6 separate regions of the Homo sapiens genome follow, and regions 1, 2, 3, 4 and 6 are each reported to be linked to region 5. Evidence: microRNA targets listed by miRTarBase, many of them from high-throughput screens and not tested one by one. Region 5 holds a microRNA gene; each other region holds the end of a gene's coding sequence.

The links. The annotated mature microRNA hsa-miR-4720-5p reads CCUGGCAUAUUUGGUAUAACUU and lies in region 5 at 2,366-2,387, shown strand. An mRNA with a match to its seed (bases 2 to 7 or 8) in the 3' UTR can be bound and repressed. Matches are read on the target gene's strand: a 7mer-m8 pairs with bases 2 to 8, a 7mer-A1 pairs with bases 2 to 7 and ends in A, and an 8mer does both.
Region 1: the mRNA of ZBTB41 is a reported target of hsa-miR-4720-5p. Seed matches in the 3' UTR shown: 7mer-m8 at 1,192-1,198.
Region 2: the mRNA of ABL1 is a reported target of hsa-miR-4720-5p. Seed matches in the 3' UTR shown: 7mer-m8 at 585-591.
Region 3: miRTarBase lists DPF2 as a target of hsa-miR-4720-5p. Seed matches in the 3' UTR shown: 7mer-m8 at 3,333-3,339 and 8mer at 1,977-1,984.
Region 4: the mRNA of AASDHPPT is a reported target of hsa-miR-4720-5p. Seed matches in the 3' UTR shown: 7mer-A1 at 2,183-2,189 and 7mer-m8 at 2,423-2,429.
Region 6: miRTarBase lists RER1 as a target of hsa-miR-4720-5p. Seed matches in the 3' UTR shown: 7mer-m8 at 1,140-1,146.

Annotation. Positions count from the first base shown.
Region 1 is chr1:197,154,691-197,159,763 of GRCh38, forward strand. It overlaps ZBTB41 (zinc finger and BTB domain containing 41), which reads right to left. Exons shown (of 11, transcript NM_194314.3): 11 at 1-5,073. The coding sequence ends at 4,669. Among named protein-coding and RNA genes, the nearest start is that of ASPM, 11 kb to the left of the region's middle.
Region 2 is chr9:130,885,367-130,890,437 of GRCh38, forward strand. ABL1 (ABL proto-oncogene 1, non-receptor tyrosine kinase) reads left to right here. Exons shown (of 11, transcript NM_005157.6): 11 at 1-2,309. The coding sequence ends at 317. Among named protein-coding and RNA genes, the nearest start is that of QRFP, 8.9 kb to the right of the region's middle. RefSeq lists a silencer at 3,156-3,450.
Region 3 is chr11:65,351,102-65,356,174 of GRCh38, reverse strand. DPF2 (double PHD fingers 2) reads right to left here. Exons shown (of 11, transcript NM_006268.5): 11 at 1,913-4,492. The coding sequence ends at 4,416. It overlaps TIGD3 (tigger transposable element derived 3), which reads right to left and starts at 1,424. Exons shown (of 2, transcript NM_145719.3): 1 at 1,218-1,424; 2 at 1-382. The coding sequence starts at 366. RefSeq lists silencers at 717-906, 967-1,136, 1,147-1,206, 1,227-1,546, 1,637-1,696.
Region 4 is chr11:106,095,923-106,100,995 of GRCh38, forward strand. AASDHPPT (aminoadipate-semialdehyde dehydrogenase-phosphopantetheinyl transferase) reads left to right here. Exons shown (of 6, transcript NM_015423.3): 6 at 821-2,773. The coding sequence ends at 985. Among named protein-coding and RNA genes, the nearest start is that of AASDHPPT, 21 kb to the left of the region's middle.
Region 5 is chr16:81,382,656-81,387,728 of GRCh38, forward strand. MIR4720 (microRNA 4720) reads left to right here and starts at 2,363; the gene lies at 2,363-2,438. It overlaps GAN (gigaxonin), which reads left to right. Exons shown (of 11, transcript NM_022041.4): 11 at 1-5,073. RefSeq lists a silencer at 4,219-4,413.
Region 6 is chr1:2,402,481-2,407,553 of GRCh38, forward strand. It overlaps RER1 (retention in endoplasmic reticulum sorting receptor 1), which reads left to right. Exons shown (of 7, transcript NM_007033.5): 7 at 555-2,956. The coding sequence ends at 644. It overlaps PEX10 (peroxisomal biogenesis factor 10), which reads right to left. Exons shown (of 6, transcript NM_002617.4): 4 at 4,240-4,415; 5 at 4,004-4,139; 6 at 1,494-3,354. The coding sequence ends at 3,286. Among named protein-coding and RNA genes, the nearest start is that of PEX10, 7.5 kb to the right of the region's middle.

The DNA.
Region 1 (5,073 bases), not on the chromosome of region 5:
AAACAAACAAAAAACCCCACATTAGAGAAATGTGGAAAAGGGTAGGATATAAGGAAGAACTGTCTAGTTTCTAGAAGTCGTTTAGAAAATTATTCTCACATTATCCATTATTCACTCTAACAGCAAGTAGCATTTACTATAACACTACTTAAAGTTTTAGAAATGCTACTTGTAGAATACATTTCTAGGCATTTTAAATTTGGCACTGAATCTTAGAATATCCAAATACAACCTTCTTTAAAGTCCTAATTTTTCCTGAGTTGATCAACTCATTATATATTGGTTGGGATGTTGCTGCTCCTAATGAGAAACTCATCTCAAACCATCACCTCTTGTTCAGTTTTAGGCAAACTGAAATAAGGTCATTCAGTGCAGGGCTGTGTAGTTATGGTTACTGGTTATTTAAAAGACAGAGAAACAGAGACACAGATGCAGACACACTACTCATTTTATTTTACTTGTCAGATTCCTCTAATAAGCATATAGAGACAGGCCCAAGAGTGGCTTCACAGTAACTATAAAGGCCACAACAGAGATTTTTAAAATGATATATAAATCATAAAAACAAATATTCACACTAACACTTAGTGCCAATTTGCCTATATAAACATAAAGCAACCTAAAAAAAAAAAGTTGCCCAACCAGCAGGCAACACAATCATAACACCCATAACCAAAAAAAAATAAAAATAAAAATCTATTAATCAGTACAATCTAGCCAGCAGAATCAACTCTAAGCAACTACAACACATCGAAAAGGCACAAAGCATTCAATGCAGAAAAGACTGGGTATAAAAGGACACTGTCAAAGAGCTACTGCTCAAAATCTGACATTTCATCACTGATATATGAGAGTGATATGGTAGGAAGAAAACTCAAGCTTATAAACATATTAGTTTAACTGTGTTTTTAATTTGTTTGCAATTATATTGAAAAGCAACCAATGATAATTACTTATTAACCCTTAATTAGCAGTTTAGAGTCACCCTACAAAGATGCTTTGACACTTTTTAAGGTTGATAGAAAATTATTAGTGTACCTATTTCATGACCTGCCATCGCCTAAAAGGAAGTCACCTAATAAAGCACCAATTTAAAACCATATTTTTGCTACTCCTATTCTCCCAGCAATAAATGCCTTAATTACTTAAATGTATGCAAAGACTACTATCTTTACAGTTGGTTAAATCTTGCTGGCATAAGGACCAACCCCTAACCTTAAATGGGATTTTAGGCTGCAAAAAAAATAGGTTGGGTTTCTTACAAAAATAACCTCAACTTGACTTAAAAAAATTCGAAGGCAAAAATTATTTTGATAGTGTAGTGTAAAAAATAGGCTTATTTAGCATTTAGTAGTGTTCTCTAAAAAACATAACATTGTATTAATTAAACTAAGGAAAACAGTATTCTCACTTATAATTGGTTTGTCAGTATGACTATTCCCAGAGTATTTTCTTTTGCTCCTATTTTTATACATATAAACACAATAATCAATCTCAGTATTCAAACTAACAACTTTTTTTTTTTAAAAAAATCCATTATTCTAGGACTTCAACTGTGCTTCTTTGGACAAATAGTTATTCAAGCAAGAAAGAATTTAAAGTCTTTTAAACTATTTAATACCTACTAAAAATCTTTGGTGCATTTAAGTCAAAACCCATTAGATTAACACATTCCTGCACTTGATAAATTATTCAATTTACAGATTAAGTGCTAACTGCTATCTGCTAAAAAATTAATTTAAAACAATAAATTATGCTCACAAAATAAAAAAATTCTGAATGAGGCTAAACTTAGTTGCAAGATTCAAAATTTTAAGTACAGTTACAAAATAAATGGATTAGAGTTATAGAGCATTTGTCCAAAATACTCTAAATCAAATATTACAAAAGGTCAACTGAAAAGAATAGGCCTCCTTTTATACTTTTTGTGCCAACTTTTGTCAAAAGCCTATATACATTCAGTTTGCCCAAATCCATGAGGTTTTCACAATTGTAAAATTTCTTACATTTTTGGAAATTAGAGGCAGCAGATTAGTTTCATTTTGTTTTTGTTGTTGTTGTTTTCAATCATCCACTGAAACTATTACTTCACCAGAATTATATTACGCATCTCCCAGACTAGGTTAAGATTAAATGACAGGATGTAGTACCTGGCACATAGTAAGCATTCATTAATGCTAGCTTTCTTCTTTCCCTACTAGTAGCTCTGCCACCTACTGACCATGTGAGCTTAAATGAGTCCTTTTATCTTAACCTCAAATTCTTTATAAAGTGGGAATATAGCTTGTTTTTACTATTTCAGGGCTGGTTATGAGGTTCAAATGAGATAACATATATGAAAGCATTTTATAAAACAGTAAATCACTACTCAAGTTTAAGTTATCTACAATAGTAACTAAATACAATTATATTATTATATTTCACTTTACTAAGAGATGTATTCCAAAAAAGTTCTGTGTAAACCAATTCCTACAATTAAATCATATATTTAAAGCATTAGGACGGACATTATTATTAAAAGAACCCTAAAGTAAATACCTTCAAAAATCAAAGTATTCTTTTCAATGTGAAAATGCAGTATCTTCTTTTTCTGCCACCAAATGTATAATATACCATATACATACATGTATATAAATATATATATACTATCTGCCTTTTTATAAGTCTAAACTTTTCTACATTAGCTTATATGTAAGGCAGGCTACATTTTTATGTATGATTTCTTTCATTATAGTAAGATTTTTAGTTATAATATTGCCAGTCTTTATGATGAAAATCATAAAGATATGTATTTTTAAAAGTCAATTTGAAAGACTAACAGACTAACAGTACCTCATATAGTCAACCTCAATCATGTAAGTACCCCAGATATAACATTTCCACACAAAGAAATAAGAATACTTTAAAAAGGAGAACATAGTAAGTATGTCCACTAGTCTTAAGACAATTACAACCAAACCTTGACAAATGAGGCTAAACTCAGATTGGTTTTATTATTTATATGAGCTACTTTGGTTAACTGCCTCAGTTTTCAATATTTCTTTTGTTTTACCTCCGCTAGTATGGCGAATGTTGCTGTAAAGTACCTTTATTTCTTAAGTGCTTCAGCGACAGTTTCCGCCATTACTAATTGATTAAACTTTATTCATTAAAACTTCACTGTTTTATTTGTGATTTTTTTTTTCACAAGGGCTGGGCTAGACTTTACAGTTTACACACACAAAAAAAGTGCTTAAAGCAATTAGGAGTGTAAACAAAACTGAAATAGAAAACTTTTAAAACTGCTATTTTCTACTAGTTTATGTACAAATGACATGCTAATAATAAATCAACCCTGTCTAGTCTAATCTTCAAGCAACTCTACTAGGAAACATTATCTTAGTTTTTAGTTAAAATTGACTTGAAAATATGGAAAGTGCATGTCTTTAAAGGTATTTTATAATTTTGACTTTTTCCTCAATTGTAATCACTGAGGTTTTGCTGTAACTGCTATTTCCTTTCACCAAGTCCTCAACTTTTGTCTCATACAGAAATAAAAATTAAAGGTTAATTACAGACATTAGGCTTTTGTGAAGGCAAAATTAAAGATCTGGATTGCATGTAAATCTGTATATAAGTAGTGGTTCCATTTAATTAAACAATGTTAAGTTAAATTAGGCACAAATTTCATAATCTGTTTGGCACCTTTTCTAACAATTGAACACAAAATATCTAGGTTCTGTTTCCCAGAGTTTCTATCAGCCAAGTAAATGAAATCAAAAGTAGCATGTTTAATTAAATTTCATTGAGTTACAACTGCTCTTTTCTTAGTGAGATGAAGACATATGCTATGTTGTATTGTCAACATTTCTGAAATAAATAGTAAAGTACAAAAGGTGAACTTACCTTGAAAAACATCTAGTTAAAACTCTCATATTTTTCTTGTAACACATTTTCAGTTTGTATAATTTAATGCCCAGACCTATGTTTGCCTTTCTTATTCATAACAATTGAAGTATAGGCAAAAACCAATTATCTGGATTATTATTTCAGTCCTACAAATAATAGCTAATCTTACATTAGTTAAGCTTTCTGGCTTTGAGTATATCAAAAGTCCAAAGGATAATGATAACCTAAAATTATGTATGAATGGAAAGACAACACAGAAATATCCAAGGCATTCTTGTAAATTCAAATTCCTAATTTCAATTTTAAAAATTTGTATAACGTAATATTGAATCTTAGGATAAGAAACAGTTGCAATTATCAGTGTACTCTTAATTCCTTCTTAAAGGCTACATGGTCCTCAAACTTGTTTGTAAGAAGGGCTAGGAAGAAGAAGGAGAGGAATGAGACTAAAGAAGAATAAAAATTTCCACTGATGATTAAAAAAAATACTTCCATAATATCAGCAGCTAATAATTGCAAAAAATTTAAGAAACCATTAAAAGTTAGCACTAAATAATCTTTAAAAATCACAAAAATGTGCACTTCAAATATTATGCCAGAAATTTTGTCCAAATATTCATGTTCAGTAAACAGAGACACATAGTTTTCTTGATTTGAAACTGTTCTGAGGACTTGAGAAACTAGAGAAAACAAGAAAATAGCAGCCCCACAAATTTAAAAGCTATCATCTCTACCATTAGCATATAACCATCCAAAAATCTGTGGAATGTTTAGATTTACTCATGAATGATGCTCATTCGTAGAAATATTTTGAACACCAGTAGTGCTATCAAGGCCCAGTAATGTTCCAAGATAAGATTGTTCTCTAGGATCTAGCATTTGTTCAGGTCGAACTGGGTGAACTATATTTGCAGGTTGAGGAGTAAGAGTATATTTTTCCAGAAAAGCTAAATCCGCTGCTCGTGGATAATCAGTTGACTGTGGCTGTGGTGACAGAATCTCATGAGAAGATGGTGGGAGTGTGGTAGTATGACGCACTAGGTCACTCGGAGTGTCAGGCATCTGAACTGGAACCAGAGTTACTGGAACACATACTTCAGCAGATACATTCTGTAACATCGTCTTGGCTTCCGACTGATAAACTTTGGGCTGGTCCATATATTGTTTTGTTTCTGTTTGAAAGAT
Region 2 (5,071 bases), not on the chromosome of region 5:
CCATCACCAAGGGCGTGGTCCTGGACAGCACCGAGGCGCTGTGCCTCGCCATCTCTAGGAACTCCGAGCAGATGGCCAGCCACAGCGCAGTGCTGGAGGCCGGCAAAAACCTCTACACGTTCTGCGTGAGCTATGTGGATTCCATCCAGCAAATGAGGAACAAGTTTGCCTTCCGAGAGGCCATCAACAAACTGGAGAATAATCTCCGGGAGCTTCAGATCTGCCCGGCGACAGCAGGCAGTGGTCCAGCGGCCACTCAGGACTTCAGCAAGCTCCTCAGTTCGGTGAAGGAAATCAGTGACATAGTGCAGAGGTAGCAGCAGTCAGGGGTCAGGTGTCAGGCCCGTCGGAGCTGCCTGCAGCACATGCGGGCTCGCCCATACCCGTGACAGTGGCTGACAAGGGACTAGTGAGTCAGCACCTTGGCCCAGGAGCTCTGCGCCAGGCAGAGCTGAGGGCCCTGTGGAGTCCAGCTCTACTACCTACGTTTGCACCGCCTGCCCTCCCGCACCTTCCTCCTCCCCGCTCCGTCTCTGTCCTCGAATTTTATCTGTGGAGTTCCTGCTCCGTGGACTGCAGTCGGCATGCCAGGACCCGCCAGCCCCGCTCCCACCTAGTGCCCCAGACTGAGCTCTCCAGGCCAGGTGGGAACGGCTGATGTGGACTGTCTTTTTCATTTTTTTCTCTCTGGAGCCCCTCCTCCCCCGGCTGGGCCTCCTTCTTCCACTTCTCCAAGAATGGAAGCCTGAACTGAGGCCTTGTGTGTCAGGCCCTCTGCCTGCACTCCCTGGCCTTGCCCGTCGTGTGCTGAAGACATGTTTCAAGAACCGCATTTCGGGAAGGGCATGCACGGGCATGCACACGGCTGGTCACTCTGCCCTCTGCTGCTGCCCGGGGTGGGGTGCACTCGCCATTTCCTCACGTGCAGGACAGCTCTTGATTTGGGTGGAAAACAGGGTGCTAAAGCCAACCAGCCTTTGGGTCCTGGGCAGGTGGGAGCTGAAAAGGATCGAGGCATGGGGCATGTCCTTTCCATCTGTCCACATCCCCAGAGCCCAGCTCTTGCTCTCTTGTGACGTGCACTGTGAATCCTGGCAAGAAAGCTTGAGTCTCAAGGGTGGCAGGTCACTGTCACTGCCGACATCCCTCCCCCAGCAGAATGGAGGCAGGGGACAAGGGAGGCAGTGGCTAGTGGGGTGAACAGCTGGTGCCAAATAGCCCCAGACTGGGCCCAGGCAGGTCTGCAAGGGCCCAGAGTGAACCGTCCTTTCACACATCTGGGTGCCCTGAAAGGGCCCTTCCCCTCCCCCACTCCTCTAAGACAAAGTAGATTCTTACAAGGCCCTTTCCTTTGGAACAAGACAGCCTTCACTTTTCTGAGTTCTTGAAGCATTTCAAAGCCCTGCCTCTGTGTAGCCGCCCTGAGAGAGAATAGAGCTGCCACTGGGCACCTGCGCACAGGTGGGAGGAAAGGGCCTGGCCAGTCCTGGTCCTGGCTGCACTCTTGAACTGGGCGAATGTCTTATTTAATTACCGTGAGTGACATAGCCTCATGTTCTGTGGGGGTCATCAGGGAGGGTTAGGAAAACCACAAACGGAGCCCCTGAAAGCCTCACGTATTTCACAGAGCACGCCTGCCATCTTCTCCCCGAGGCTGCCCCAGGCCGGAGCCCAGATACGGGGGCTGTGACTCTGGGCAGGGACCCGGGGTCTCCTGGACCTTGACAGAGCAGCTAACTCCGAGAGCAGTGGGCAGGTGGCCGCCCCTGAGGCTTCACGCCGGGAGAAGCCACCTTCCCACCCCTTCATACCGCCTCGTGCCAGCAGCCTCGCACAGGCCCTAGCTTTACGCTCATCACCTAAACTTGTACTTTATTTTTCTGATAGAAATGGTTTCCTCTGGATCGTTTTATGCGGTTCTTACAGCACATCACCTCTTTGCCCCCGACGGCTGTGACGCAGCCGGAGGGAGGCACTAGTCACCGACAGCGGCCTTGAAGACAGAGCAAAGCGCCCACCCAGGTCCCCCGACTGCCTGTCTCCATGAGGTACTGGTCCCTTCCTTTTGTTAACGTGATGTGCCACTATATTTTACACGTATCTCTTGGTATGCATCTTTTATAGACGCTCTTTTCTAAGTGGCGTGTGCATAGCGTCCTGCCCTGCCCCCTCGGGGGCCTGTGGTGGCTCCCCCTCTGCTTCTCGGGGTCCAGTGCATTTTGTTTCTGTATATGATTCTCTGTGGTTTTTTTTGAATCCAAATCTGTCCTCTGTAGTATTTTTTAAATAAATCAGTGTTTACATTAGAATTCTTGGCAGATTGCTTCGGCCTGTGATCCTGCCCTGTTGTTCTGAGCCTGTGCGGTGGCGGGGCCGGGATGTAGTGGGTTCTGGTTTCCCGACGGGGCTGGGGCCCGGCATCAGGTCTTACAGAGCAGAACGGTGGCAGGTTGCCCCCAGCTGCCCAGGGCCTCTGCGGCCTGGGTGCCCACAGCCATCTTTCAGGCACTTGCCCTGCTATGCTCGGACCCTTTCTGTACCCTTGGCGCTTACCTGCTGGCAGCCTGGCCCCACCGGCATCACTGGGAGTGGGCTGTGCCACCATACAAGCCACATCTGACTGGCGGTATCAGGCTGTCGCAGCGACGTGGAAGTGGGGTGAGGAGGTCACGTCCCGTGCTTCTTGCTGGCTGAGGGCAAATCCCTCCCCACGTGCGCCTGTTCTCTCTCCACCTTTCCGCCCTAAGCCCCCAGGTGCCCTTACTCACTCATGTTCCTTGAGCCAGGTGTCTTAGGTCTTTGTGTGGATGAGGAGGAGCGGAGGTGTGAGGTGTGCTGGGCCTTCAGGGCCTGGGAAGGCCATCCCAGACTGAGCCCCACCGCCCTTTCCCAGCTCAGTCCCCACCGAGCTGACAGCTTGGAAAGGGGCGGTTGGGAAGTGAGTAGCACCCTCTGATAATGATACTGATCAGGCCAGCAGGTTTGTCAGGGGTGCACATCCTGCTCAGCAGAGCATATGAAGATCACAGCTTGGTGAAGCTCCACTCGAGAGACCTGGAGCGAGACTGCTGTGCGGTGGGTGACAGGTGGAACTCCAGCCGGGCCGGGGCTGGTGGAGCCCACTGCGAGCAGTGCCAGGCACAAGATTCTCCCCCTCTCATTTCACAGGGACAAAACCAGGCTGGGGCCCCCAATTTCCTTGCCGGTTGAACCATAGCTGGCCACCAGATCCACCAAGCCTGGGGCTTCTCTTGTCCTTTGAATGGCTGCTTCTCCCAGGTCTGAACGAAGACATAGGACAACTCTGGTGACAGCCACAGCTGGTGGCCGCTTCCTCGTGTCAGATGTGGACGGTCACCCCGCCCTCCCAGCGCTAAGCGCTGAGACTGCGTGTCCAGAGTCGGCTCCTGCACGTGAGGCCAATTGGTCACACTGGGCCAGTGTGGAGGAAGACGCCTCTCATCTCCCAAATGGGGATCTTTCATGGGTGTCACCTGAGCTTATAGAGCTTAGTTTAGTCTAGCCATTCCAAGACAGTGGTTTCTTAACCTTTTCTAGGTCACAAAACCTCCTGAGAACCTAATGAAAACTGGATCCCAGCCCCAGAAAAATGCACCTGTGTGCACACACCCAGCAGTTTCCAGGTCATTTCAAGTCCTGCCTTCGAGGTCCATTGTTATTATTTACAAAACACCAGCCTAAGGTATTGGACATTTTCTTAAAAGGCCAGGCAAGGTGGCTCATGCCTGTAATCCCAACACTTTGGGAGGCTGAGGTGGGTGGATTGCTTGAGGCCGGGAGTTCAAGACCAGCCTGGGCAACATAGACCCCATCTCACAAAAAATACAAAAATAAGCTGGGTATGGTGGCACCTGTAGTCCAGCTACTCAGGAAGCTGAGGTGGGAGGATTGCTTGAGCCCAGGAGGTGGAGGTTGCAGCAAGCTATGATCGTGCCACTGGATTCCAGCTCCAGAGTGAGACCCTGTCTCAAAAAAAATTTTTTTTTCTTTTTTCTTTTTGAGACAGAGTTTCGCTCTTGTCTCCCAGGCTGGAGTGCAATGGCACAATCTCCGCTCACTGCAACCTCTGCCTCCTGGGTTCAAGCGATTCTCCTGCCTCAGCCTCCCGAGTAGCTGGGACTAGAGGTGCGCACCACCAGACCCGGCTAATTTTTGTATTTTTAGTAGGGACGGAGTTTCACCATGTTGGTCAGGATGGTCTCGATCTCTTGACCTCATGATCCGCCCACCTTGGACTCCCAAAGTGCTTGGATTACAGGCATGAGCCAGTGCGCCCGGCCCACCACTTTTTTTTTTTTTTTTTTTTTAAGACGAGTCTCACACTGTCGCCCAGTCTGTAGTGCAGTGGTGCCATCTCGGCTCACTGCAAGCTCCGCCTCCCAGGTTCATACCATTCTCCTGCCTCAGCCTCCCAAGTAGCTGGGACTACAGGTGCCCGACACCACTCCCGGCTAATTTTTTGTATTTTTAGTAGAGACGGGGTTTCACCATATTAGCCAGGATGGTCTCTATCTCCTGACCTCGAGATCCACCCACCTCAGCCTCCCAAAGTGCTAGGATTACAGGCATGAGCCATCGCACCCGGCCAAGCCCACCACTTTTTTTAATGAGAGAGTTTTTGTTACTGTCCTCCTCTGACAGGTAAGGAAGCTGAGAGGCTCAGAGATGTCAAGCAGCTCGGCCAAGGTCACACAACATGTACCAGCTGGTGCCTACCACGGCAGTCTAATCAGTAGACAGTGCAGACAGCCCCAACAGGACCAGGAGAGAACTGTGCCCAGGGCCGGATTTCTCCCTCCACAGTGGAAGAGAAGCAGCCAAGTATTACAGCCAGCCCAGCTCCTTGGGCCGCAGAGATCATCTCAGGAGGCCTTTCTAAACGGAGTGCCCTGGGGAAGCAAACTCTAAACGTCCTCGTACGAGAAGACATTAGGTGAGACCAGGCTGACCACAGTGTCCCTGTCAGCACTGCCCTCGTCCCTGGGGGTCACCTAATGTCTTGCTCCCCTGCCCCCACACTCCAGTTGATATCACTGCTGTAATCAGGGAA
Region 3 (5,073 bases), not on the chromosome of region 5:
GCCGATGCTGGGCACGAAGTCCTGGCCCATGATATCGGCCAGCTCCTTGGCTTTGTGGAGCAGCATGGGCCCCGTCACGTCCCAGGCCTTGGCCCGGGCAATGTGGTACCAGCAGAGCAGAGCCTCGTCGATCCCGCTGTACTTGGACTCCCGCTTGCGCTTGCGCTCTCGGTTGGCTGTGCCGCTGCACCAGTCCGCCAGCAGCTTCTCCTTATTCTTGCAGATGCGCGAGATCTGGGGCTGGGAAACCTGGAAGCGCCGGGCCACCTCCGACTGGGACATCTTGGACTCATCCAGGAGTTCCAGCACCTGGATCTTCTCGGCCAGGGACAGGGCGTGAAGCTTCTTCTTGCTGCTCAGCTCCATGGCCTCTCCGGGGCACCTGTGCGGGGAGGAAAGATTGAGCGGGTAGAGTAATCTGAGGCCGGAAGAGCTAGGAAAGGAGCGCAGGAGGGAAAAGAGATTAGATGAGGACTTGCGCAGGCACCGGGTGAGACTGGACCCGCTGAAAGAGGAAGTGGCTAGGCCGAGTGGAAGCCGGCTGGCCCCGTCCCCAGGATGCCAGGGCAGAGCTGGGGAGGGGGCGTCTCTCCACTCAGAAGGACAGGGGAGTCTGGGCTGGGGTCTGGCCTCACTCGGGAAGAAGGATGAAAAGTGCAGGGGACAGCTGCAGAGATAACAAAGGCATACGGACGGGGGAGGGCCTGGGACTGGGGCCGAGGGGGCAGGTGTGGGGCTACGGGGCTGCGGGGGAGGAGCCCCCGGGAGGGAGTGGGAGGCGGCTTGGGCTGGATTCAGATGACGCCGCTGGGGGGTGGGAGGTGGGTGGATGCACACAGAGTTGAGGTGACAGGTGTACAGACGACAAAGGGGACAGAGGGTGTCTGAAGGAGCGAGGCTAATTTGGTGCCGGGTCCTGAGAGGGAGGCTAGGCGACGGTCAGTCCTGAGGGGAGCGAGAGGGCAGGGCCGAGGGCGCAGGTGCACGAGCGACAAAGGGCGGGAGGCCTGAGGAGGCTGCGGGCAGCGGAGGGGCGGGGTGTCCCCGCGGGGAGGGTGGTGGCCTGGGAGGGTCCCAGGGCGCGGGAACGAACGCCCGGACCCAGGCAGGCCGGCAGCCGGACTCCGTGCCCTGGCCGGTCACTCCCCCTCGACCCGGAGTATGTCGGCGGGGCGGCCCCAGGCGCCCGCCCGCCCGGCCTCCCGCTCCGCACCCACCTCAGGCGCTGGTCCCGCGGCTCCAGCCCCTGCCCCCAGCCCGGCTCCCGAGCCCCTGTCCGGGCGGCGACAGCAGAACAGGGGAGGGATGGGCGCCACGACCCCGAGGGCAGAGCGGACCGAGGGCCTGCGCGGACGGCGGGCGGGCGGGCGCGCGCACAGCAGAGTCCCGTGCGCGCCGCCCGCGCCGGGCTCTCTCCCGGCTGCGAAGTCCGCGGTGCGGCCCCTCTGCACCCACCCGCCGCAGCCCCGCCCCGGCCCAAGCAGATTGGTCCTCAGTGGCGCCCCGTCCCTCCCCCGGCTAAGTTTCATTGGACGTTGCGGAAGTGGCGGTTCGTCGAGCCCCTCTGGGGGCGGGGCTTCTAGCGCGGAGGGGCGGGAGGCGGAGCCAGGAACCAGCAGGACTCCCCTGGGCGCCTCCAGCAGCCGCCGACCCCGAGGGCCCGACGAGCCCTGTAGGTGGTGTGGTGACCGCCGAGCTGACTTGGCGTCCCAAAGCCTCCCTGGCCGTGACCCTAGACCGCATCGGCTTCTTCGTCTACCAAGCAGGGCTAACAGCCCTCACGGAATTGTTTTGGGAAAACGATGAAAGGAGAAAATGGATGCAAGCTTTAAGCCACACAAAAGCTGGTTACCATGGACAGCGCTGGCTCGAGTCTGTCGGCCACGGAAACACTGCATGCTTGGGCCAGTAATGATTTAGGACGAGTATTTTATTAGATTTGGTACTTTACAAGATTCAAGTTCTTAAACTCAAGATCTGGCATCGTTCCCTTCCCTGCTAACCTTCAGTCCCGAATTAAACGCAGACGTCTTGACCCGCAGCCCAGCTGCTCTCCAGCCTCGCTGCTCCCTCCGCTCACAGCTCCGCATCCTCTGCCTTCCTCACAGGCTTCCGTCCGCACCCCCGTCCTACCGGCTGACACTGTCCAACTCTCCAAGACCCATCTCAAATCCTACCTCCCGCAAACCCTTCCTAAATTTCCTCACCTAGGCCTGCTACAGCGTTCTTATTTTCCACATTTCTTTTCTGGCTCTCGGACTACTCAGCTGCCAAAGCGCATCCATTGCTGTACTCCCTCTCTGCCTGGCCTACTTCAGTGGAAAAGCATGAGGACGGGCTGCGCTCTGCTCCTCACACAATCCCCAGCCCAGAGCACCCTGCTTATTTATTGAACATAACAGTGCAGGCCGGCCTAGGCTTCCCATAGGCAAGGATGACTTTCAGAATGTTCTAGAAAAAAGGATACTTCAGGGGGCCCATAACTGCTTGATTCAAATCTTTCCTTTAAAAACATAAAAACAACAGTTGGACTTCTAAAACACACACTGAAGACATACGCGCTGCCACGTAAGCTCTCCACATGTTCACTTTGCCTTCAGGGAAACTGTGTGCACATCAACGTGCCCTGGGAAAGGCTGCAGGGCTGCACTGCGGGCAGTTCAGATCCTAGAGCACTTGCTCTGGCCTGGGAGCGCTGCAGGCAACTGAAGCCACACAGACCCTGCTCCTGCAAGAACTTTTGTGTGTGTCCCATGGTGATGTCATTAGTTTGCTTATTAATTATATTTATATAAACTTCTGGTCCTGTTTTAAATGTCTGAGATTGCAAGGTCAACTGTTATAAACCTGTCATCACTTCCATCTATGTATCCAAGACTAGGAGAATTCTCCAAATCAACTGAAACATAAAAATAGATGTTAAAGTTGATTTTAACCCAAATTTTGTATTGATCAAAACAGCTTCATTGTTCTTTATAACAAAGAATTGTTATAAACTTGAATTTATGTAACAAAACAAAATAACCAATTTTATATTCGCTTTACATATTGGGGTTCCACAAAAAAATTTTAATTTGGGGGGAAAAAAGCTGTATTTCAAAACATTAAAAAAAAAAACCACCATCATGGAAATCTTAGGATGAAATGGCCTTCTTAATGGAGAAAGGCAGGAGATAAACCATCCAGCAGAGGGCTCTGTGTAAAAACATTTATTTTTACTAATGTTTAGAATACAGGAACTAAAGAAAGAAAAAAAAAAGACACCTCAACTCCAAAGCGACAGTGAGTTAGGGCCTGCCCACGGCCAAGGGGGAAGGCTACTCCAGGGTGTCCTGGCATGGACTGTCCCCCCACTACTTAATGTCAGTGCCACTAAGCAGAAAACTTGAGGAATCAGGGTGTGAAGACCTTACCAGCTGCTAGCGAGCGTGCAAGGGAAGAAAGGGATGTCTATGTGGCTTCCCCATGAGCTGAGAGCCAGGATACACGGGGCAGGTGGCAGAGGCTCCCAATTCAGTTAAGAGCAGGAGGCTGAATGCCCAGGTCCAGGAAGAACAAAAAGGGGATTTTGGAGGTAGGCTTTTTTGTTGTGTTAAAAAACAGGCACATTATCCATCTCCTTGTGGCCCCCGAGCTGCTGGCCTGGCCCCCTGATCCTTCCCCTCTCCCCACAAAACCAAAAGGAGTAGGAAGGGAGGCAGAAGATGAGAAATTCCAAGGGTGGGGAATGCTTCAGTCACTGGAGACCGACCGTAAGAGTGAGCCAGGAGAGCAATGGGAATAACAAGGTGAAGCTACTGTTCCCCCTGGGGTGGGGTGGAATGGGACAGGGCAGAACCAGGAGGGTGACCGAGAACATCCTGACTCCAGAAAAGAACACTCTGTAGCAGGAACACAGGGCCGCAGAGAGCCACTCTGGAGGAAAGAGGTGAGGCTATGCGGCACAGGGGCATGAAAAGCTCCTTGTGGACGTGGCCTCAGCTTGCTCGCTCCCAGCTCCCTGGCCTGGCTTGCCTCTAGAGGACAGGAAAACTCTGGAGACCAGAGGGGAGGCAGAACACAGAGAAGTGAGCTGCTCTCCCACTCTTTCTAGGAGGACACTGTTTGAACCCTGTGATCACCAGGGGCTGGGCCCAAGGCAAGCAGAGTGAATGCACTTAATGGAGAGCAGAGAGAAACTGGGCCACACGCACGCCTAGGGGCAGTGTGTTGCTCCTTTCTCCCTGAGGGCCTGGGGCCAGAGGTGGTCAGAGCTGCCACCTCAGCTTGCAGCTGCCAAAGGCAGGCTGGCACAACCACCCCAAGGTTCTCTGGATTTGTGAAGGAGAGGAGGAAGAAGGGAAAGATGGGTATGAAATATGAAGTGGAGGAGAGAAACAGCCTTAGATATGTCGGGGAGCAGGTGGGTGGCCACATCAAGAGGAGTTCTGGTTCTGGTAGATGGAAGCTTTCTCTTTCAACAGGTCCAGACACAGGTGGCAGCTCCAACTTCCTGCAGAGAGGCAAAATGGGGTCAGGATGGGTCCCACACAATCCCCACCTGCTTGCAATTCCTCTGCTCTTGATACCCCATCTCTATAGCAGGATCAGCTACAGGTAGGACGAGGGATGCTCTGCAGCAGGAAAGTTCCATGGTTTCCTGAGCTGGGATAAACCTCTAAGTCTTCAAATATTATGAAATATCATCCTCTATGGAGATGAAAGAAATAATCATCTAGAGGACTTCAGAATACTGATGCCCAGGCCCTCTTGGCCCTATTAAATCAGAAGTTTTGGGAGTAGGAAGAGGGCCTGGGAAGACAGAAGTTTGTCAAGCACCTCAGTTTTAAGACTTGTGTAGTTTCACTAAAAAACACAAAATAATTGTCCCTTATATGAAAAACAATTGGGTCATTCCTTGTTTATTAATATTGACTATGGCTGAATTCTTCTAATTTTTTTTGAATAAAATTAGTCCTTAATGCCTTGAAATGATAAGCAAAATTATACCTATGCGCATTTGGACATTATTCTAGGGCTTTTATCAGCTCTTCAGAAACAGGTGACTCAAAAATGTAAGTCCTTTCTAACCCA
Region 4 (5,073 bases), not on the chromosome of region 5:
TTCCCTGGACAGAGCCTGTTTAGGCAACAGTGGCATGTTGGGAAGACTAGAGTACAATTCACAAAATTGGGTTCTAGGCCCACATCTACCATTTAACCTATGTTTTGAGCTTGGACAAATTGTTTGAATTGTTTGCTCTTCCTGAGCCTCAGATTCCCCATCCATAAAATTAAGATAACCGTATCACAACATAGCTATGAGACCAGTCATATAAGTACTGGACCTTGACTTGTTAAAGCGCTATACAAAACCCAAGTACTATTTATACTAGATGTGTAGAATATTAAAGAGGGTCTGCACTGGGTTCAATTGTGAACAAGGGCTCTATCTCAGAGAGTAAGATACAGTTTAAATTTAATATTGAATAAATAATTTCCTAAAGAAGTATACATCTCTGTATAGTTATGGCAGTTTTATCAGACCCACCTTTTAGAGTAGTATTTCACAAAAGTTCACTTTCTCACTCACCTCTATCAAAATAACCTGACTGCTCGTTAAAATTACAGATTTTGATATCCCTTCTAACTGATATGTAGTAAATCACACTTTTTGGATGTGGGGCCCAGTAAATCTACATGTAAAATACCACAGGTTTTTGTTATATAAAAAAGTTCAAGAATCAGGTTTTCTATTTCATTTTTTTTTGATTTGTTGTATTGGCAACACTAATATAAGAAATACAAACAATGTTCTAGGAATCCTATGTTGTCATTTAATACTACTGAAATGTAAGTTGGTCTTACTTATTTTCATGATTATGAAATTGATCATAAGATTAACATGCAATATAACAATAAGGTAATCTGCTTTTGTCTTTTAGGTTCCATCTCAGGATGATTCCAAACCAACCCAGAGGCAATTTACTATTCTCAACTTTAATGATTTAATGTCATCTGCCGTTCCCATGACACCTGAAGATCCTTCATTTTGGGACTGTTTTTGCTTCACAGAAGAAATTCCAATACGAAATGGTACAAAGTCATGATGATTCCCTGAGTAACAAAGGGAAATGAAAACTGTTTGTGATCTTCCGTATTCACTGAAAAATAAATGCTTGTTTAGTATCAAATTTTATTTCACGAAAGTTTTTTTAAAGAACAGAAACTTTTCCAATTAAAAAAAAAAAGCAGACTTCTGGTTCAAGATAGCTCACTGGAATACATGTTTACCTCTTTCTTTCCTAAATTGCATTGAATTGATAGGAAGGATGGCGGAATCTTAAAGTGATACATGCTAACTGTAGAAAAAAATAGAAAATGCACATAAGCAAAAGGAAACATTTAAATGCTATCTTTCAAAGATAACTACTCTTAAAACCTTGAGTATCTTTTCAGACCTTTTTCTTGGCAAATGAATCCATATTGACATATTTGATTTTTTTAAAAACATGGAAACGTACTGTTTTGTAAATTCTTTTTAACTGCACATCTACTGTTCATAAATATACCTCTGTAACATAACTTTTTGTGGTTCTAATGTACTCTGTTGTATAGCTAATACAAGTTAGGATGCTTTTGGCCAGAGGTAACAGTGTCCAAATATAATTGGCCTAAGTAACCTAGGAAATTGTTTGACATAACACAGGGTTCAGGGGTGTCATTAAAGACACACTTTTTTTGCCTTGACCTCAGTTGGTTTGTTTTGCCTTAGGCTATTCCACCTCTCGATCACAAGAGCTGCTGCTATAACTTCCAGTTTTACATCTTTGTAAAATTGTATCTCAAAGGCAGAAAAGGCCATTTCGTCTCTCATTTGTTTTATCCATGAGGAAGATTTTTAACAAAAGCCTCCAGAAGATTTCCCCTCAGTTTCCATTGACTTAGATCAGGTTACAGAGAAAGGCAATGTCTGACATTTTTGGTCTCTGTTAGAAGTAGACTCTGTTGAAAAGAAAGAAGCTAAGCTAGGTGTGAAGAATGGAATTGGAAGCCCACTGCCTTCCCATAAGAAAGGTTTACCATAATTTACTCACTTTTTTCTGTGTTAGACATTTTGATTATCTGCAGTTTATTACTACAAGCAGTGGCAGAGTGAATGTCCTTGTACATTTTGAGTTACATGCTTAATTATGTCCTTGAGAAAGTTTCTAAAAGTGGAATGATTGGTTTGACTGGTTCATAGGGCTTTAATTATACAATTTACCCCTCTAATTAGTACTATATGTATGTGACTTCCCTCCCCCTGCCAGAATACTCCTTGGTCAATTGTAGGTATTCTTTTTGGTTTAATTTTTGCCAATGTAATTAAAAAATGGTATGTCATTTTTAAAATTTGTATTTCTTTCATTACAAATAAGATTGTTATGTCAGTATTGTTATTGGCTTTTCGTATTCCTCTTAACGTGAACCGTCTGTTCATTGTTTTTACCTGTTTTCGTTTTAGCAAGTAGTACTTAATTTAAAGTGTGAACTTAATATATAAGATGCCAGGACCATCATATTGATGACAAAAATCTATTATGTGGTTGTAGTGCATGTCTTGGAGTTAAACTCTTAAGTATCAAGAAGTAAAATAATTTCATTGTTTCTGTTACTAACATTAAAAGTGTGCAAATTGTATAAAATTAGGTACTTCGATTAGTAAAAGAAAAAAATTTGAATGTTTTTTTTTTTTATTTTATTAAGCATGCCCAGTTATGCCAAGCATAGTAAATAAAGGTCAAGTAGCATTTATAATAGAGGAAGTATTGTTATCCCTAGCATGAGTGTAATGGTGATATGAAAAACTTTGTCTTGTCATTATAATAATAAAAAAATGAACATTTATTATGGAATTTCTATGAGCCTGACACTGTGTTGGATTTGTGTTTTTTAGTTTTTAGTTTTTCTATTACTTTTAATCAAAGTTTCATGTGTACACAGCTTTAAAAAATTGGATAGATCTGTAAGATTTTTTTCCTAAGGAAAAAGGCCATTACTCTGACTTCTTCCATTTCCTGTCTCCAGGGCAAGCCCTTTCAACTCTTTTAGATGTTATTTTTTTTGTTATTTATTACCATGTCTCCAAATGACATGCTTATATTGCTTTTACTTGATTTTTTAATTTTAGGCATTGTTTCTTTGATTTTCAAAATAAAGCTTCCCTCTTCTGCTTCCCAGCATTACACATTCCCTTTTTATCCCCTTTTCTCCTCCCAACATAACAATTCAATGTTTACATTGTTGACTGTGATTACACTAAGGATATGTGTACATTATTGAGATTATGTAACTGCTGTATACAGCTGAGTGATGTATTATCCTTACCATATACTAATTTCTTATTTCCTTTAGTTAATTGACTGCATAGATTTCTACCATATGTATGAATATCTTCTCTATATGTTCAAACGTAACAATGATTCCATCAGTTTCTTTCATCTTTTAAAAAATCACTCCTAGAGCAATCTGCTTTGTCCAAGTTGGACTTTGTGCCTTCTATGGCTGGTGTACAGCTGTAATCCTGGGATCTCCTTTACCATGATCCTGGGGATTGTCTCTCCTGTGTTGGATTCCCTGTTCCCCATTTGCTATCTCTCACATCTTAGATTTACTCCATTCATGTGAAATAGCTTTTTGAGAACAAAGTGGGCATAGGAGTTACATTTTTTGAGACTTCTAAGAGGAAGGGACAGTCCTATGCAGAGTGGTATAGGGATCTAGTTGTTTCTTAAACCCATTATCCTATCCCCCTCCACATGAAGCTCTTTGTTAACGCTGTATTCATATCCACTTTTTCCAAGTATTTGATGGCTGCATTTTGCTGAGTTTTGTGCTGGGCTGGCACATGCTGCTTCATACTCATGTCTGCTGGGTCCAGTTATAACATACTGACCAATGTATGGCTTTATTGGTCTCTGTTAATGTGTTTCCTGCATAGGAACTCTCATAAATTTATTTTTAAAATGAATCTGTATATTTGTGTCTCTTCCATTTCAGACTCAGAAATTGAAAAGATTTGGATAAATTTTCAGTTAAATTTTTCACTATCAAAATTAGAATTGTTACCTATTCAGAATCTGAAACTCAAAAACCAGTTAGGTTTGAGTAACTCAACAGCTCCTCACTAGTGGAACTATTACCATCTGAACTTGAGGACCAAATAGATTTATAAATACACATATGCAAATATATCTTTGGTCAAAAATATTCCTGAAAACAACTCCAAGTATCAGTACGTTTAAAGAGGATATGAAGAGAGCTAATGAATGATGGATTTCATTTTTATGGGGGAAATAAATATACCTTCATAGTATTTGTGAATTTGGGATTGGCAAAGGTCTTTGGATGTATTCCCAGTTTATCAGTTAATGTCAGGTAACTGCTGTATATGTCTTATGGTATTTATATTAGAAGCTATTTTGCATCTTAAGCACTCACATATCAGGCTATTTAATTCTTATAACTCTATGGAGTTGTATTGATGGGGAAAGTAAGTTACTGAGTTCTTGAACAACTTACTAAAGGTTATATATTCATTGAATACTGAAGCTTGTTATTTGATCAGAGTTAGGCTCAGATCTTTAGATCCAAAACCTCAGTCAACCACTATACTTAGTGGTGTGCTGGTAAATATTTAACAACCAGCAATCCTGGGGCAGGGAAGAAGAGACCTTTATATGTAGCTTTTGCTTATTCCATGAAATAATGACGTGTAACCAACACCTAGGTTTAGCACATGTTGGCATTTTGTCATATTCGCTTCAGATCTTTTTTCCTCTCATTTCAGGAATAAAACAAATGCAGCTAAAGACTTCCTACCCCCTAGTTACCACCCCTTCATCTTTCCCTTTCCAGGGATAATCTCCAATATTTGTAATTTTATGCTGTTATGCGTTTACTATTTGTATGTATAGTGTTTTGTGATTAAATCTTACATTTCCCTATTAGGATTGAAACATTAGGATGGAATCTCTTTGTGTGCTACTTAGAAGTAACAACAGTGTCAGAATAATTGAGCTCACTTAAGCCCACACTTCTCAAGGAGTATACATACTTAGGAGTAGGCACTGGTGTGTGGTAGTAACTCATCAAAAGATAGCAATTGGTCATCTAGAGGCATTCGTTTTATCTGAAATTTTGGAAAGAATCTTTT
Region 5 (5,073 bases):
TAAGGATGAGAAGGGGCCCATTTGCCCATATTTGATAACACAGACTTGGATTGAGTGTCTGTCATGCCTGCTGGCAGTTAAGTCTCAGTGGTATTGACTGCTAGGCATTTTCTATATTTTTTGCAAGTTAGCTGGTAAAACTTGGTAAAGTTTTGTGTTTTTCAGAAGGAACCCTATTATTATTTCCATTTTAAACATATTTCAATATTGTCTCATTGTAATAGTTCCATTTATGTGACATCTGAGGAATTAAATCATACTTCCAGATGGTTTGGTCTAATGTATACAGTTTAGGAAAGTTTATTCTTTTTTATTTTATTTTATTTTTTTAAATTTCTTTTAGAAACTGGGTTTTGCTCTGTTGCCCAGGCTGATCTTAAACTCCTGGCCTCAGATGTGGAGACCCAGCTGGGACTACAGGCATGAGCCACCACGCTCCGTAGAAAGTTTGTTCTTTTTCAGTTCTGTCATTGAAATTCTCTAAGTGATTGGATTTTTAAACCCCTTCCCCTTTTCATGAAATTAAACATCAAATAAATAAAACTACATTATATAATTATTTAGTCAGAAATGACTGTTGCCCTCTCTTTTTTTTTTTTTTTTTTTTTTTTTTTTGAGACGGAGTCTCGCTCTGTCGCCTAGGCTGGAGTGCAGTGGTGCGATCTCGGCTCACTGCAATCTCCGCCTCCTGGGTTCAAGCAATCATCCTGCCTCAGCCTCCCCAGTACCTGGGATTACAGGTGCTTATTACCACACTCGGCGAATTTTTTGTGTTTTTAGTAGAGACGGGGTTTCACCATGTTAGCCAGCATGGTCTCGATCTCCTAAACTTCGTGATCCGCCCGCCTCAGCCTCCCAAAGTGCTGGATTACAGGTGTGAGCCACCTCGCCTGCCCTCTTTTTTTTTTTTTATTTTGAGATTAAAACTAATTCTTTTAAAGTCACTACTCAGCTGAAATTTGGCCTGATTATAAATGTTGATAATAATTTCTTCCTGGCTCAACAAAGTTGTTGAGCTTCCTTCTGTGCACACATTGAAAGAAAACCAGAAATTGTACAGTCGTGATATGAATTAGAGAAGGAACAGGTGGAAAAGGATGGCAACACACAGAGTCCGGGGGACACACGGCCTTAAGATGAAGTGAACGAGTAGACACTGAATAGGATCCACGTAAATGAACGGCCATTTCAAATCATTCACATCCCAAACGGAGGTTCATCTGTCTTCTGGTTGGTGAATTATATTTATTAGGATCTTATTTTTAGCATTTCATTACAAGTAATAGGTTTGGGTACCTTATTTTTATTGTTTTTACTCATCAGTTATGAATAAGGCATACCTTAGAAACTTGGGTTAAATTTTTTCAAGTTATACCAGTCAACTTGGTTTAAATACAACTGTACTAACTTGCTTTATCATGTTTCCTGTTTAATTGGATGAGAATTACATGCACTTATTCAGTTGTTCTTTGTGTTTATAGGAAAAACTCTGTTCTCAGCTACCTCATTATGTAGTATTGTGCTTGATCCCCTGCCAATTGAGAAGAATTCAACACATTCTGTTCTTTAACAAAAGCTTGGAAGCAGGCAGTCAGAGGCCTTGAGGAATACAATTCTCTAAGGCCTGTTTTCCATTTTACTACTTAAAAAAAAAAAAAAAAGAAAAGAAAAAAAAGCACTTACAACCAGGAGGAATAATAATTCTCCTAGAGTTGCTGCAAACTGATTACTTGAAACTCAACTTGAACTTTAAAGAGTCTTTAAAAGGCTGTTTTCATAATGCAGAAAAGTAGTCTATTTAAACGCCACTGCTGTGTAAAACAGGGGGCTCGATTTCCATTCTTGTTAGCATCAGACAAGAAAATGTGTCTATCTGTCATCTGACCCAGTATTTGGGATTTGGGTGCTTGAGGATACTATTTTTTTCATTTCTTATAAGGTGCTATTGTTTCCCAGAAATCTTTAATTTTGATGAAAATCTACTCATTGCTAAGATCCTCCTCACTTAAAGTGTTTCCTCAGTGCAGAGTTGAGGTTGGCAGAACTATATAGAGTTGGATGATACTGAAAATCATGAATGATGTGATTTGTTCCATGTATCTGTGGAACATCCCTCACCTTCCTCCGGTATGCGCCTTCTGCACTCCACACGTGGTCGCCTCCATCCTCCCTAGTGTCTGTCAGCTTGCCTGGTCACCAAGTCAGGAGGAAGAAGATGAGGAGGCTCACCAGTTGTAGGCAAGACTCTTCCTCTCGGGAGATCTTGTAATAATGGCCCAGTTTCAGGGCACAGTTGTACACATTCTACTTAAATGGAGGAGTTCAGTGATGCCGTGGCCAAAAGAGTTATGCCCATTTCTAAAAGCCTGGCATATTTGGTATAACTTAAGCACCAGGTAAAATCTGGTGCTTAAGTTGTACCAAGTATAGCCAAGTTTAACTGTCGTTGTGTATTAATAAGATTTAATTTTTATGCTTGTGCTTTTCAGAGTAAAGGGCTTGCTTTCAATAGTAGAATGACAAAGCTTCTCCTCCAATGACAATCTGTTAGCACCCTGTTGACTTAGCTCAGGACATGAGACTGACTTAGCTCAGGACATGAGACATTTCCTGGAAGTGATTTCCATGAGAACAAAGGCTTATTCCTTTAACTTAAACCCCAAACTTTGTTATTTTAATTATTTTCAGGCAATCATCTTTATATACTTTCCTTACAAACCCAGTGGTTGAGAGCATAGGCCTTGGTGGCAGGTGCATCTGGGCTTGGGGGCTTCTGCCACACTTACTACTCTGTGACTTGGGAAGCTCTTAAGGCTCCCAAGGCTCCGTTTCTTATGTGGAAGAAGAATAGCAGGAGGACTCACCTCTGCGGGTTGTTGTGAGGATTAACTGGGTGATGACTGTAAGCAGCTGGGAGAGTGCCTTGTGTGCAGTGACCACTGTTGCTGCCACCATGATTATGTCACCTCTCAACATGGGGTGGTGGGAGGCCCTGTGGATGAGGCCAAGGCTGCCTGCACTGAGTGTCCCAGGCCTTATAGCTTTCCACATTCTCACGTCTGCTGCCACATGATATACAAGTAAATGTATTAGAAGTTGGTGTTCATAAAATACTTTTTTTTTTTTTTTTTTTTGAGATGGAGTCTCGCTCCGTCACCCAGGCTGGAGTGCAGTGGCGCCATCTCCCAGGCTCAAGGGATCCTCCTGCCTCGGCCTGCCAAGTAGCTGGGACTACAAGTGCACACCAGTATGCCCAGCTAATTTTTTGTATTTTTAGAACAGGTGTGGTTTCACCATATTGCCCAGGCTGGTCTCGAGCTCCTGAGCTCAGGCAATCCGCCTGCCTCAACCTCCCAAAGTGCTGGGATTACAGGTGTGAGCATCCAGCCAGAAAATGATTTGCTTTCTAGACCCATATCACCTCTCTCCATCTACATCTCTAGTATTTAAATTCAACACAATTCTAGATAGCTGAAACAGCCCAAAATATGTGTTTAGAATACTTAGAGTTTGTTATAAATAACCCTCTGTTTAGAATTTGCCCAGTGAAATTCTCTAATAATACTTAAAACTCTTTACTAAAGTTGAATTTTCCTTTTTTTTCATTGAAATAGCAAAGGTAGTAATCTGTATTGGTCAAAGAAACGAGATAATTCCTAGATCTCTGTTTTAGACCAGTAGACCTAACTGTGCTTTCTTAACTTGGATGTTACATGAAACTTAAAAACAAACAAATATGTGTTACAAGTACTTGTGTGTACGTGCATGTGTGTTTGTGCATGTGTCTGTGTGTGTGGAACTTTTGTACCTTTGCATAAAGAAGGTTATTTAACAAAGTGGTACAAACAGTGAACTACTTAATCCTTCTATGGTATCATACACTTCTTTTCCTGGTTAGGTTATGAGACTGGCAGAGGTAGGAGTATATAATGTGCTCAGCTTGTCTTGATTTCAATAAGACATTTGATAAAGTCATTCTTGATCTCTGAATGTGAAAAGGAAGTAGAACAGCCGGGCGCGGTGGCTCACGCCTGTAATCCCAGGACTTTGGGAGGCCAAGGCGGGCAGATCACCTGAGGTCGGCAGTTTGAGACCAGCCTGACCAACGTGGAGAAACCCCGTCTCTATTAAAAATACAAAATTAGCCGGGCATGGTGGCACATGTCTGTAATCCCAGCTACTCGGGAGGCTGAGGCAGGAGAATCTCTTGAACCCAGGAGGCGGAGGTTGCGGTGAGCCGAGATGGTGCCGTTGCACTCCAGCCGGGCAACAAGGGCTAAACTCCATCTCAAAAGAAAAGAAAGAAAGGGAAGTAGAAGTAGGATTTAACAAAGGACCGAGAAGTCGGCTGAATAGCCAGGTTCAGACAGTGTTGGCAAGAACGGATCTTTGGCAAGATCACTTAAGGTGAGCTACTCTAGCAGCATCCTGTTTGACATTTGTATCCATAACTTGAATAAAAATATAGAAGGCAAAGAAGAGTGCTGGGCAAGATGTGTTGGGTGTTAGATCTGCAATACTCTTCATAGTGTAATGGCTAAATGTAAAGTCTTACGTCTCGGTTCAAGAAAGCACGTTGCTATATGAAATTTCAGAAAAAAGTTTTGTTGCGGGGGGTGGGATATTGATCATTTGAACATATGCCAGTTGTTTCTCCTGCCCTAGGGGAGGTTGGCACGGCAACCTTCCCACTCCGTAGGTGGGTAGCCTTGCTGATGGGGCACGTCGTCACCAAGGGACCTGATTGTTGTCATGGTTTTGTCTTGTCCTCCTCCCTGGTGAAAGTCTACTGCAGTTTTATTCTCAGCTCTGGAAGGAGAGGGAACGAGCCTCTGCCTGTGTGTCCTGACCCCTCTTGCCTTGTTTTTGATCTGCTCAGGCCGGGTGCAGTGGCTCACGCCTGTAATCCCAGCACTTTGGGAGGCAAAGGCAGGTGGATCACTTGAGGTCAGGAGTTCAAGACTAGCCTGGCCAACATGGTGAAACCCCGTCTCTACTAAAAATACAAAAATTAGCCGAGTGTGTTGGTGGGCCCCTGTAATCCCAGCTACTCGGGAGGTTGAGGGAGGAGAA
Region 6 (5,073 bases), not on the chromosome of region 5:
TGTGTGACGAGGACACTGCTCCGTTCCCAGCACGGCCGGCTAACTAAACGGGGAGCGCAGCTGTGGGAGCGGGCGGGCTCTTGGTGGAAACTTTGTGGAAGCCGGGTGGGAGAGCCCCGGCGAGTGCAGTGTCCCGGTGGCTCCTCTTAGGGTGCCCAGTGCCCCGCGCCAGCCTGCCCGAGGAGGAGGGTGTTAGGGGGAAGTTAGCCGAGACTGCGGACTGTGCCCTTGACGGTGTGGCCTTCGTGCTGCGGGCCTCACTCTGTGCCCGGGGTGTTGGCTGCAGAGAGGGCCCTGGGCCACCTCACATCCCCCTTGCCCTTCCTCCACGGGAGGCTCACGAAGCACTGGGATTGATGGGGTTTCAAACCTAGGCCTCGTGGGCTGTGGAAGGTCTTGCTGTGTTGATGTGGGCGCAGGAAGCCACTGGGGCTCCGATTCCACTTGTCTGATGTATAGAAAAGATGGGGGACCTTTGGCCGCTCAGATTTGGGGACAGTGTGACTGACTGGAGAGCGGTTGTGCAGTAACTGAGTCTGTGTTTCTCTCCCCAGCACATGATTAAGTACCGGTACATCCCGTTCACACATGGGAAGAGAAGGTACAGAGGCAAGGAGGATGCCGGCAAGGCCTTCGCCAGCTAGAAGCGGGACTGAGGCTGCCTCACGTGTTGCAAGAACAGTTTTGAGCCATTGTTAACAATGCCTTTTTTCTTCACATAAAGTAGTTGATTACGAGGGAGTCAAATTTTCTTTTTAAAAAGGAGCTTCAATGATTTGTAACTGAAATATCAGGTTCTAGAAGAAACTGGCGCTTAAACCAAATCGCATGGATTTCTTTTTCAGTGACGTTCAAGTGTTTCTCACGGATGGAATTCTAGTCAGCTGCAGGCGGGAAGCCAGGCGGGTGGAGCCCATGGGAGCAAGGGCGAGTGGCCGGTCCCCGCTGTGCCAGGTGGGCAGGCAGGAGCAAGGCCTGCGAGGGAGGAACGGGCCGCTCCCCGCCAGCCGCCTTCCCCAGCAGCCGCAGGTGGTGCCAGCCACTCCACAGAGCCCGAGGGATGATCTAGCCTGATTCCTGCGTGTCCGAAAGAACTTAACGTTTTAAAGGTGATTGTCAAGTAACTGTGTGGGGTTCTAATGCCAGTTTCCTAATTCCATCTCACTGGAGATGTTTAAAGTTGGCCTCTATCCTAATGACTCAAAACTTGGTTCTTAACTACCATGATTGCTTTTGAGGGCCCGGAATTATAAATATATATTATATTTTAATTGTTTGAGATTATTTTGACACATTTCTTTGATACGTAGAGTGTTTTGTTTTTAATTTAAATCTGTCCTCATGCAACCCTCCATGAGGGGCAGCGAAGCTGGCAGGGAGCAGACTGGCTTTGTAGGTTCAGCACTCGGCCCCCCACTGCGGGAGAGGCGGAACCCACTTGCATGTCAGCGTTTTTGATTCGAGAAAAGAAATACTCTCAACGTTTTACCAAGTGATTTTACCTCCACCTTTACTAAAGTCTTTACCTAAAACATGGCAGTCGCTGGACACAGGAAAGCCCACCTTTTGTTTGGCCTTTTCGAAAGGTGACCCATATTGCACAGCAGAACATCACAGCTGTGGTCCCAGATGAGACACTGACATGCGAGTGAAGGCCTCTCCTCCTGGGCCCCGGGCTGCGCAGGCTCCTCACTCTGGGCGGTGTTTCCTGTCTCAGAATTGACACGGTGAATGCTTAGTGTCTGGATTTTCTTGTACCAGTGTTTACATATCTGACATCGAGCTCCTCTAAGAGGCCACGTTCAAGCTTGTGTGTCCCTGACCCAAGATAGCCAGTGCTGCTCCCAGGTGGTACTTCTGGTACCGTGTTGAGACACTTGGGATTCTCAGACTGTGGACAGGAGTGTTTGTCATTTTTCATACTGTTTTCTTAATAAGCGCTCAGGCCTAAGGTGTGACAGGAAGTCGCACGCGCTTGGCCAGAGCACAGTGAAGCAAAGGACTGGGTGCTGATGGATGGAGCCACGGCGGCATCTGCCCACCCGGCCGCAGCCCCCAGTGCCTCTCCTGGTGGTCCTCCCAGTCTAGAGGGTCACGGCCCCCCCGCCCTCCTCCGTCTCTGGCAAGCTGACCTTGACTAACCCAGGAATACAGGGTCATCCTCATTCCTAAGTAAGTCAAACAGCAAGACATGGTTTGCGCGGGTCTTTGCCGGAAGCCGGTCCTGCTGGCCAGGTGTTTTACGTCAGCAGGGAAATGTGGCACACGCCCTCGAGGCATTTTAACACTGCGCTTCAGGAAATCTCAAGTTCCATCTTGTGTTAGTAACGTACCCACATTTTGCTGGAGTTAGTTTATTAAAGATGCCTACGGTGAACTCTCTGGCGCAGGTTAAATGCAGTTTTGAAAACCTGGAAACATCAAATGGAGGCGGGAAATAGGCTGGGGCCGAGCTGAGGGGCTGAACACAGCAGTGACCGTGGGTCAGCAGGTCGCCTGCCCAGCAGGCCCCCCAGGAGAGGGCTCGGGCGCCCCTGGCAGCCCCCATACCCCCAGGACCTGGCTCGTGAGTGCGTCTGGGTCAGGAAGAGACCTCTCTGTGCGTCTCAGGCTGAGATGCAGATTTCTGTTTTCTAAAACTGGAAGCGACCTTGACGTGTATTGAAGGTGTGTGTGCCAAATGCTTCCGACGGAGGTGCTGGCCTTGGTTGGTTTCTCTCTGCCCCGTGTGGTCATCAAGTCCTGGGGGATGTGCTCTGCCCAGCCGCCCTCGGGGAGAGCAGCGCCGCCTCCCATGGGGCCGTGGGGCTGCTGTTCTCACTGCACTGGCTGAAGCAACCCGCCAGCCTCCGTGCCCCACCCCACCCAGCACGCACTCATTCAGTCCATTGCCTTAACACAAGCCTGATGGGGCTGTTTTCTCACAATATAAACGAATAAAGTGTCTTCTGGCCTACTTCTGAATTACTTCTCAACTGTATGGTTTGGGGAAGGGAGGGAAACCTAAAATCCCGTCCAAATAAGTGAAATTCCTGAAGAAGTGGCTGAGTCCTACCAGGTTGGGGTTAGGGAAATGTTCTGGGTTCAGGCGCCCCTCCCAGGGCTGAGAAAGCGCAGCCAGGGACAGCTTTCTGTTCTCTCCCAGGGTGGCTAGGTTAGTATCTTACATGACAAAAAACTGAGAGTGTTCTAACTTCTGTGCAAGCAAGGTTAATCCTGAGACTAAATCTTGGCGTTCAGACTCCCGTAGAGGTCATCTGTGTCCAGGCCCACCCGGGCGCCGGCTCAGCGGTAGTGCCGAAGGTAGATGAGCTTCTGGGGAGGGAACTTCTCCCGGCAGAGGGGACACTCCGCCTGCGGAGAGGAGAAAGGGGGTCACAGCAGCTGGGGCCACTGGGCCATGCCCATCCCCATCGGCATTTCTTTTCCTGTCCACATTCTCTGCACATGACACACAACATAAATGTTGTATTTCCTTCAACTAATGACCAAGAAAGCCAGCCTTTTTTCAGAAGGCCGAGTCCCAGTGGGGGCTGGGGCGGGGCTGGGGGCGTAGGGCTCAGGGTGTGGGGCTCGGCCGGGAGGTTCCCTCCTGCTCCCGCAGCTGACACAGCCCACGAAGCCCAGCTCCTGGGAAAGCGTGCGCTCTCACCCTGCCGGCATCTTCGGTGGGTGTGAGTCAGTGTGCTAGGGTTTTCAAGTGTGGTGAGGACCCCGGGAGGAAGGGTGTGCTGGGATGCGTGGTGCAAGCGTGGGGCCTTTCAGGGCTGGCCACTACCCCAACCTGCATTCGGCAAAGCCTCAATACACGTGAATTTGGAACTTTAACCCCCTCAACGAACCCACATCTGACCTACCTGGGAGCCTTTAAAAAGATGCCCACCTCTGTACCCTCAAAACTGGAGGGTGCTCAGAGCCAGACTCCCCACTTCTGCTGCAGCCAGGTGCATCTTGCCGGCACAGCCGCTGACCACCCCAGGACGGCAGCAGGCTCCCACCTCACCTTGCTGCTGCACCACGCGGTGATGCACTCCCAGCAGAACAGGTGGCCGCAGGGCGTGGCTGTTGGGTGCCTGCGCTCCTCCAGGCACAGGGTGCACAGGGGGTTTCTGGAAACGGCTCTCTCCTCCAAGGAGGCCCTGGGGAAGGTGGGGCAGAGCGTCAAGGTGGGTGCACCTTACAGGTCCTTGTGAAGTGCCCAGGACACCCCCAGCCCCCATGTGTGGCCCCCGCACGCACCTGCGGTGAGACAGGCCGCGGTGCAGCCTCCACTCCTTCCTGGCTCGCTGCCGCTGCCTGAAACCGTACAGCTGCAGCCCCATGGACAGCACCAGGTGCAGCAGTGAGATGACCCCCAGCAGCCTGTAGCTAACACGGGCCCTCAGGTCCTCTCCGGGCAGGCTGCGGACACGGAGCTGTAAGGCAGATGGCGCCACACTCATCAGGACCCTGAGGGGATCTGGCCTCAGCGCCTGCTGGGAGGGTCACACGTTCAGTTGGCACAGAGCACGTTAGAACCAGGCCTCTCACTGGCATGGGGAGTGCCCGGCAGAAACGATCAAGCCAGGGGGCAGGTTCAGGGAGTCTGAGGTGCCTGCTTCGTAGCCTAGCATGACGGAGAGGCCTGAGCTCCAGACCAGCCTTGGCATTACCAGTGCAGAAAGAGTCTTAGCTATGAGGCTGGCAGAGCAGGTGAGGATGTGGGGATGTCCAGGGACCACCTCTCAGAAAAGGAGGCGGGGAGCGGAAATGTGGGGCTGCAGACGCTGCCCACCAGCTACCCTGCTACAGGGACCGAAGCCCCAGTGTAACAAGGCACGTGGCCCCAGGGACACTGCTGCCACCCTCCTGCTGGTGACACAGGTAGCTTCTGACCGTGCCACTGAAGGACAGCTGGCTGCCCTCGGCTTCCCGTGTCACTTTCCACTGGCTGGGAAATGGAGACAGCCAGACAGCCTCGGCCCAGGGCCGGGAACCACATACAGAGGTGGCAGGTCACACCGCCAGCATGGGCCCTGGGTGTCCAGCCACTTCCTGGCTGTCCTAGGAGAGAGGGAGCCTCCCATCTGGTTT